Homo sapiens: one gene and its partner. The protein of the gene in region 2 purifies or fractionates together with the protein of the main gene of each other region. This does not show direct contact. Each region holds a gene or a part of one and is shown on either strand. Other genes may lie near its edges. The genes, in order: MIOS and SZT2.

Evidence for each region.
Region 1: the proteins of SZT2 (region 2) and MIOS purify together in Homo sapiens (affinity purification with western blotting; one study listed by BioGRID and IntAct). This does not show direct contact.

Annotation. Positions count from the first base shown.
Region 1 is NC_000007.14:7,587,330-7,591,156, forward strand, and holds part of MIOS (GATOR2 complex protein MIOS), read left to right. Parts: intron 1-1,168; coding exon 1,169-1,234; intron 1,235-2,075; coding exon 2,076-2,234; intron 2,235-3,827. UniProt on the Homo sapiens protein: As a component of the GATOR2 complex, functions as an activator of the amino acid-sensing branch of the mTORC1 signaling pathway. The GATOR2 complex indirectly activates mTORC1 through the inhibition of the GATOR1 subcomplex.
Region 2 is NC_000001.11:43,396,164-43,399,990, reverse strand, and holds part of SZT2 (KICSTOR complex protein SZT2), read right to left. Parts: intron 1-3,827.

The DNA of each region.
Region 1 (3,827 bases), on a different chromosome or scaffold from region 2:
TGTTTTGCTATACATAAATTTGAGTTATTAGATAACAGTCATCTTGAGTACGAAGTTCATATTTCCAAGCTGTTTCATTTATGTATTTAGTTATACTTTATGTATAAATAATTATAATTAATGTTGCTATTTAAAAAATGTTAATAGTAATGTGAAAAGTACTGAATTGGGAAGTCGGAAAATACAGGCCTGACTCCTTGCTCTGCCCCATTTACCATAGCCATTCAGTTAATTTTTTTGAGTATTACTTTCTCGAGATGTAAAATGGGACAGAATAATGTTTATAACTCTTTCCAGATCAAAATTTTGTAACATATGCAACTGAATCTAAGAGTTAAATCTAGTTATATGAAATATGTTCTCTCTTTAGGGCAAAACCATATTTTATCATAGAAAAAATATGCTAAGATATAGGTATCAACTGAAGTGATCTTACGGTTAAAAAAGTAAAATTTTCATAGGATGACTTCAGTGGAAATTGGATCTTTTTTCCACCCTTAAATTATTTTTACAAATTACAAAATTAATTGTACCTTCCTACATTTGTAGTAAATATATTTCAAAAGTGTTTCATGATATTGACGAGTTTACAAAAATTTTAGTTATTATAATGCCTCTGAAATCTTTGCCACAAACCACCTATATAACAACTTTAGCCACAAGAGTGTGTCTGTTTATGTTTTAAAACTTGTCACTTTGTACTTGGAAACGTATATTGGTATTCTTCTAAGTTGTGTACTGGTGTAGCCAATTCACAAATTTCTTAGACTTACTGATTAACTTAGTAGCCAAGGAAAGATTTCCTTAGTTCTCTAAAATTAATTTCTATGATGGAAAGATTATGTGGCATCTTAAATTTGATATACTGTGCATCATTGCTTATGTTTTATGTTATGTAAGACTGACCTGGATTTTTAAAAACTGAATTTGGCTAGTGTTTAAAAGGTAAATTTTTACTTTGCAAGGACAAAACCTTATTGCTGAATTTCCTAAGAGTTACATCAAGAAAGGCATCTCAGGCAATTAATGGCTCTGCAAGATAAATATAACTTATTAATAAATTTGGAAATAAACATATTCATTTTATTTATATAAAACATTCAGTCTCTGCAAAAATTTAAAACCAGTGCGCCTAGAAGTAACTCCTTGCTTTTTCTCTTCTTTCCAGTATGAAAACAAAGTTGCAGTACGTGACAGAGTGGCATTTGCTTGTAAATTCCTTAGTGATACTCAGGTGAAAACTGATTTAATTCCACATTTGAAGTAATTAATATGTACTGTCACAATTATGTAAGAAACTAGTCTTTATAATTACATATGTATGAGATTGATAAGCTAATTCTTCTAAAAAGTATGGTAAGAATTTATTAGATAAAAATATTTTGAAAATGTCTACCATAACTAAATTTATTTGTTTAGAATACTGACAATATTTTAGTATATTTCTTCTTTGGAGGGTAAGATTAGTTAGTAGGTAAAGATGTTAAACTCACCTCTTAGTGATGCTATGAAAGGGTTCCTCATTTTTACTACATTAAACAATGCTAAATGCCTATGCTGTGTATATAGTGAGGGGGAAATGCATGTAAACAACCAGTAATACTATATGCTAAGTACTATAATAATGAAAAATGCTGGGGAAAGATGGAGGAATCTTGGCAAGAGTTTGGGGTGGGTTGAAGTCAGGGAAGACCTAAAGGAAGTTATTCTTGATGATCTTAAAGTTCCCTTCCAACTCCAGATTTTGTGATTCTGTTACATACTACTATGATAGACAGCAAAAATTTCGCAGAATAATGAGGACAATTATCTTTAAAATAATAAACCATCTATAGTTCTTTTATGGATTAATTATCAACATAATAAATGCCTTTTTAAAATATTTTAAATGATTATGGATATTGCTTTGAAATTTGTAATAGATGCAGACTTCTTAGTTAAATATTTATATTTTAGTAAAGTCTTTTGTTTTAAAATGTTTTCCATTAGGAATGAAATTGTTCAAAATGTAGTTTTGAAGTACAAAATACATAGTGAAACAGATTGCTTTAGAAAAATCACTTTAAATTTTCCAGTTAAATAGATACATCGAAAAGTTGACCAATGAAATGAAAGAGGCTGGAAATTTGGAAGGAATTTTGCTTACAGGCCTTACTAAAGATGGAGTGGACTTAATGGAGAGTTATGTTGATAGAACTGGAGATGTTCAAACAGCAAGTTACTGTATGTTACAGGTCAGTGCAGTTTGACAGCAGCTTTTAAAAAAGTAACAATATTCTATATTTTCTTTCCTCAGTTGAAAGTAAATATGCACTTTTGCTTGCTTAGGATCTTTAGAAGGCATTTAGTTTTAACCTAATCAGTTGATCTACTGAAGACTTGTGCCTTATCTTACTGTCCCTAAGCCTCTTCATTGAGTTATCCAGTTTTTCCTTTCAGTCTGAGAAGGGCCAGTCTTGACTGCATCTGAATTTATGTAAAGCTCAAATTGAATAGAGAAACTCTCTTCAGTTTCTCCAATTGTTGACATAACTGCATCTTCTACAAGAAAGATTGGCTTTTCCTGATCTCAACTATAGTCTTACTTGAAGTGCTGAAGTCTAGTTATACCACAGCTCTCAGCTTTCATTTTCTCTTTTTATTATCATTGGGGGTATTTGGGGTAACCAATTTATCCATATTTTCTCAATTTTTACTGTCCAGTGATTAAAAACAGATTCCAGGCATAGATTGCTGTCTACTTTACTTTTGCTGGAAATAATGGTAAAATTTAGAGTATTCTCCTGAGATTTCCTGTAGCCCTCCAGTTGATCTTATCCTTACATGATGTTGGTACCCTCCTCTTTCCTGCCCTCATCCTCATATCACAATATGGTAGCATACTGTGTACTGGGTGAACACAGGAAAATGCCCCCTCTCCCACTGCACCTTCTTGTGCATATATAGAGACACTAGCCCACAGACCACAAAGTAAACTTACCTAATGTATCAAGCCACTGCCCATGGAAGAAAAAGTACCCTTCTATAACATTTTTTCTTGTTGAGATAAAATTATGTCTTTTAAATTAAAGTGTATGTATATGGCTGTAGATGGCTACAGAGTGCAAATGAGTTAGTAACTTCTTACCAAGATTTATAAAATATATTTAAAATGCAGACAATACAGATCTTGCTTTTTTAAAATCCAGTCTGATAATTGCTGCCTTTAATTGGAGTGTTTCCTTCATTTACATTTATATGGTCATGGTTAAGTCTACCATCTTGCTGTTTGTTTTCCGTTTTGTTTGTCCTTTTTCCTTTTGTTCCTATGTTCCTTTCCTACCTTATTTTGGGTTAATATTTCCATGTTTCATTTTATTGCCTCTATTGGCTTTTTAGCTATATCTCTTTTCATTATCTTTTTTAAAAGATGTTGCTGTAGATCTAACAATATGCATCCCTCAACTCATCAAAGTCAACATTTTACCCCCTCATACTTCACATTTCTCACCTGACACATCATGCTTTCTTTCTACTTTACCCTTTCTTATGTCACTCTGACACTTTCTGGGTTTTACTTCATGCTTCACAAATGTCACAACAGTGTGATTTCATTTACACATCCATTCCTTTGTCCTATTGTCATATATTTTACTTTTACAGATATTATATACTCCAACTTACAGTGTTTTTTTAACAGTCATTTGTCTTTTATGTAAATTATGAAAAGAAAACATGGGCTTTTATATTTATTCACTTATTTACCATTCCTGGCATTCTTTTTCCCTTCTGTAAATCCTATAGCATTCCTTGTAATATAGGTGACAGATTCTCTCAAATTTTAACTG
Region 2 (3,827 bases):
CTCCAGCCTGGGCAAAACAGCAAGATTCTGTCTCAAAAAATAAATAAAAATAATAATAAAATGAAATTACACCTTGGGAGATACTACTCTCTGTTACACTGCTTTCCAACACTGTGTTGAGACAGGTCCTGGCTAGGATTTTGGATTCATCCTTTGAGTGAGTTTAAGCTACTAAAGGAATTCCACAAGACAGTAACATTATATCTGCATTAAAAAAAATTCCCTCTGGTGGCCGGGCACCATGGCTCACGTCTGTAATCCCAGCACTTTGGGAGGCCAAGGCAGGCGGTTCACGAGGTCAGGAGATCGAGACCACCCTGGCTAACACAGCGAAACCCCGTCTCTACTAAAAATACAAAAAATTAGCTGGGTGTGGTGGCGGGTGCCTGTAGTCCCAGCTACTCAGGAGGCTGACGCAGGAGAATGGCGTGAACCCGGGAGGCGGAGCTTGCAGTGAGTCGAGATCACGCCACTGCACTCCAGCCTAGCGAGACTCCGTCTCAAAAAAAAAAAAAAAAAAAAAATTCCCTCTGGCTACTGTGTGATTTAGAAAGCACCCTCCCACCGCAGACTAACAACTAGGGGAGATGACAGTGGCTTAGACTAGAGCTACTCAAAGTAGCCATTCTGTGAACTGTGTGAGACTGGGTCTTGATGAGATAATGCCAGGATGCAAAACCACCACTATCTTTCACGGTGAAAGTCTTATTATGGAAAACAAAAAGTCAGCTGAACTAAACAGTGAACTTAGTTGTATTTCAAGGGATCTTTAGGATAGGACAGAAAAGAACTGGTGATTAATTATAAGTCAGGACATAGGAGGAAAGTAACAAAAAGGAAGGTATCAAGGATGATTAAAGTAGCATTGGAAACCAATACGCTGCAAAATGATTTTTTTCTTTTTTTTTTTTGAGACGGAGTCTCGCTCTGTCGCCTAGGCTGGAGTGTAGTGGCGCAATCTCGGCTCACTGCAACTTCCGCCTTCTCAGTTCAAGCGATTCTCCCACCTCAGCCTCCTGAGTAGCTGGGACTACAGGGGCATGCCACCATGCCTGGCTATTTTTTGTATTTTTAATAGAGATGGTGGTTCACCATATTGGCCAGGCTGGTCTCGAACTCCTGACCTTGTGATCTGCCCGCCTCCACCTCCCAAAGTGCTGGGATTACAGGCGTGAGCCACCGCACCCAACCTACTGCAAAATGATTTCTAAGTTAGCTACAAAAAGTAGATAGTTATTCCTGACTACCACACCCCATCGAAAAGTCCCATCAAATTGTACACTCTTATCGCCATGCTCCTAAAAACAGAAAAGGGGTCTATTTATTGGCAAAGAAGGAAATCACAGCAATTACTCACCCTTTCTTTCTCTGATCCTTGGTTTTAGGGTGGGATACTAAACCAGGCAACCTCTCCTTCAGGTTTGACTTAGCTAGTGTGGGTGGGATATTATGTGTTGACTATGCTGGATACTGCCAAAGTTCTTATCTAAAAAAGCATGTACAAGAGACTTACTGGAGTTTTAAAAAAGAATTTTTTTGTTAAGGGATGGTTTGGGGCTCAGAGCATTATCAGAATAGGAAGGCTATCCTAATTCAGCAGTCATTTGTTTATCACTCTGTCTCCAGAGCCCAGTGCAGTGCCTGGCACATAGGATGTTCAATAACATTTCTCTAAATAAGTGAATTCGCTATGGTTTTTTCTCCCCACCACCACCTCTTCCCCTCTCGCTATATGTTCTAAGCACGGCAAACTGGACATTTAAAACTAATCATAATTAGTACAACTTTTCTCAAGATGAGATCACCTTAACACTAGTGTCAACACTACTTTCCTTTTGTTCTTTGGTACTAAATACTTTTTGTTTTCAAATGCCAGCCTGTTTCAGCTATGCAAGGAAAAACCAAGGAAAAGCGTTTTGGCCCACGTAAGGCCAGGGTTAAAAGGGGAAGAGCACATGGTTGTGGGTCAGCACTATAAGGACAGAGTTGGGCACGTGGTCACCTCATCTTCTAGGACTAAAATCACGGCAAATCTAGGTTTAATAAATGAACCTTTCCATGACTGTCTGCACTAAGTTAGGGTCCTATGTTGGGCATTCACACAGCACTCTGTATTTTTTCTTCATGACACCTGCCAGAGTTTATAATTAAGAATTTGTAGGGGCCGGGCGTAGTGGCTCACACCTGTAATCCCAGCACTTTGGGAGGCCGGGGTGGGTGGATGACCTGAGGCCAGGAGCTCGAGACCAGCCTGGCCAATGTGGCGAAACCCCACCTCTACCAAAACATACAAAAATTAGCCGGGCATAGTGGAGCACATCTGTAGTCCCAGCTACTTAGGGGACCGAGGCAGGAGAATCGCTTGAACCCAGGAGGTGGAGGCTGCAGTGAGCCAAGATTGCACCACTGCACTCCAGCCTGGGCAACAGAGCAAGACTCCATCCATCTCTCCATCTCAAAAAAAAAAGAATTTGTATACTTTAATGTTTGTTTCCTGTATAAGTCTGAAGATCCAGCGAGGTGGAGGCCATGTCTACATATTGTTTCTTTTCTTTTTTTTTTTTTGAAATGGAGTCTCGCTCTGTCACCCAGGCTGGAGTGCAGCAGTGCCATCTTGGCTCACTGCAACCTCCGCCTCTTGGTTCAAGTGATTCTCTTGCCTCAGGCTCCTCAGTAGCTGGGACTATAAGCACGTGCCACCACACCCAGTTAATTTTTGTATTTTCAGTAGAGACAGGGTTTTGCCATGTTAGCCTGGTCTCGAACTTCTACCTCAGGTGATCCACTGGCCTCAGCCTCCCAAAGTGCTGGGATTACAGGTGTTAGCCACCACACCTGGCCTATACATTGTTTCTTGCTGTAACCCTAGAGCCTAGCACAGTGCCAAGACATACTAAGTGTTCTAATAATAACTGTTGAATACATGTATGAACAAGGAAAACTAATCTCACAAGCTGTATTTATTCTGTTTCCAGCTATTCTTAATTTGTTACCAATAATTTCTAATTTTTCACTCTTCTATCAACATGGTTTTTGTTGACGAAGAGTTCCTGTCCTTTATTCACTTCATCTTTCAATCATTTATGGACAAGGTAAGCTATTCTATTTTTGGAGTTTTTCCTTTGCTTCCACAAACATCGTTTTTACCACATTTTCACTAGTATCTTCTTCTTTATTGTTCCTGGAACCCTGGGGGAGTGCAAATGGGGGTTCTAACAGATTTGCTTTATGTTCCATTAGCTTTGTTTTAGAAAGAACAGTGTTACAGAAAGAAAGTGTTGTGATTTGACAGCTAAGACTCTGGGTGAGCTTCCTCCTGTGTAAAAATACCAGCTAGCCCAATGATGTGTGAAAGCACCTTGTAAAAAGTAACGTGTATAAATGCACAGATTAGTAATAACAAAGTGTTGCTGTTTACCTCTCTTCTTTGAGTCAGAAGTCCTGCACAGCCATTCACTTCAGTGTTGTTTCTTTGTTTTTTTTGCCCATACCTGTTTAGTTGGTAGAGTTGGGAATGTCCTCACATAGAGCCAGAATCTGTCTTTTTGATAATATCTTGACCTACTCTTAAAATCTGTTGTCTTGAAAATATCTAACCCACTTTTTGTTTTACCTTCTAAGGCCACACAGGGAGAATCTGACCCTCTGCCAAACGAGAGTCTATTAAACATGTGATGACAGCCCTGAGTCTTTACTTTTCTAAAACAAACATCTTTGGGTTCTTTAAGTGTGTCTCAAATGGCATGGTTTCAAGTTTCCTCACTATTTTATATCTTAGATTATGTGCCCATGAATGAATTCTGGCTGGTCTACTTTACAACTTAAAA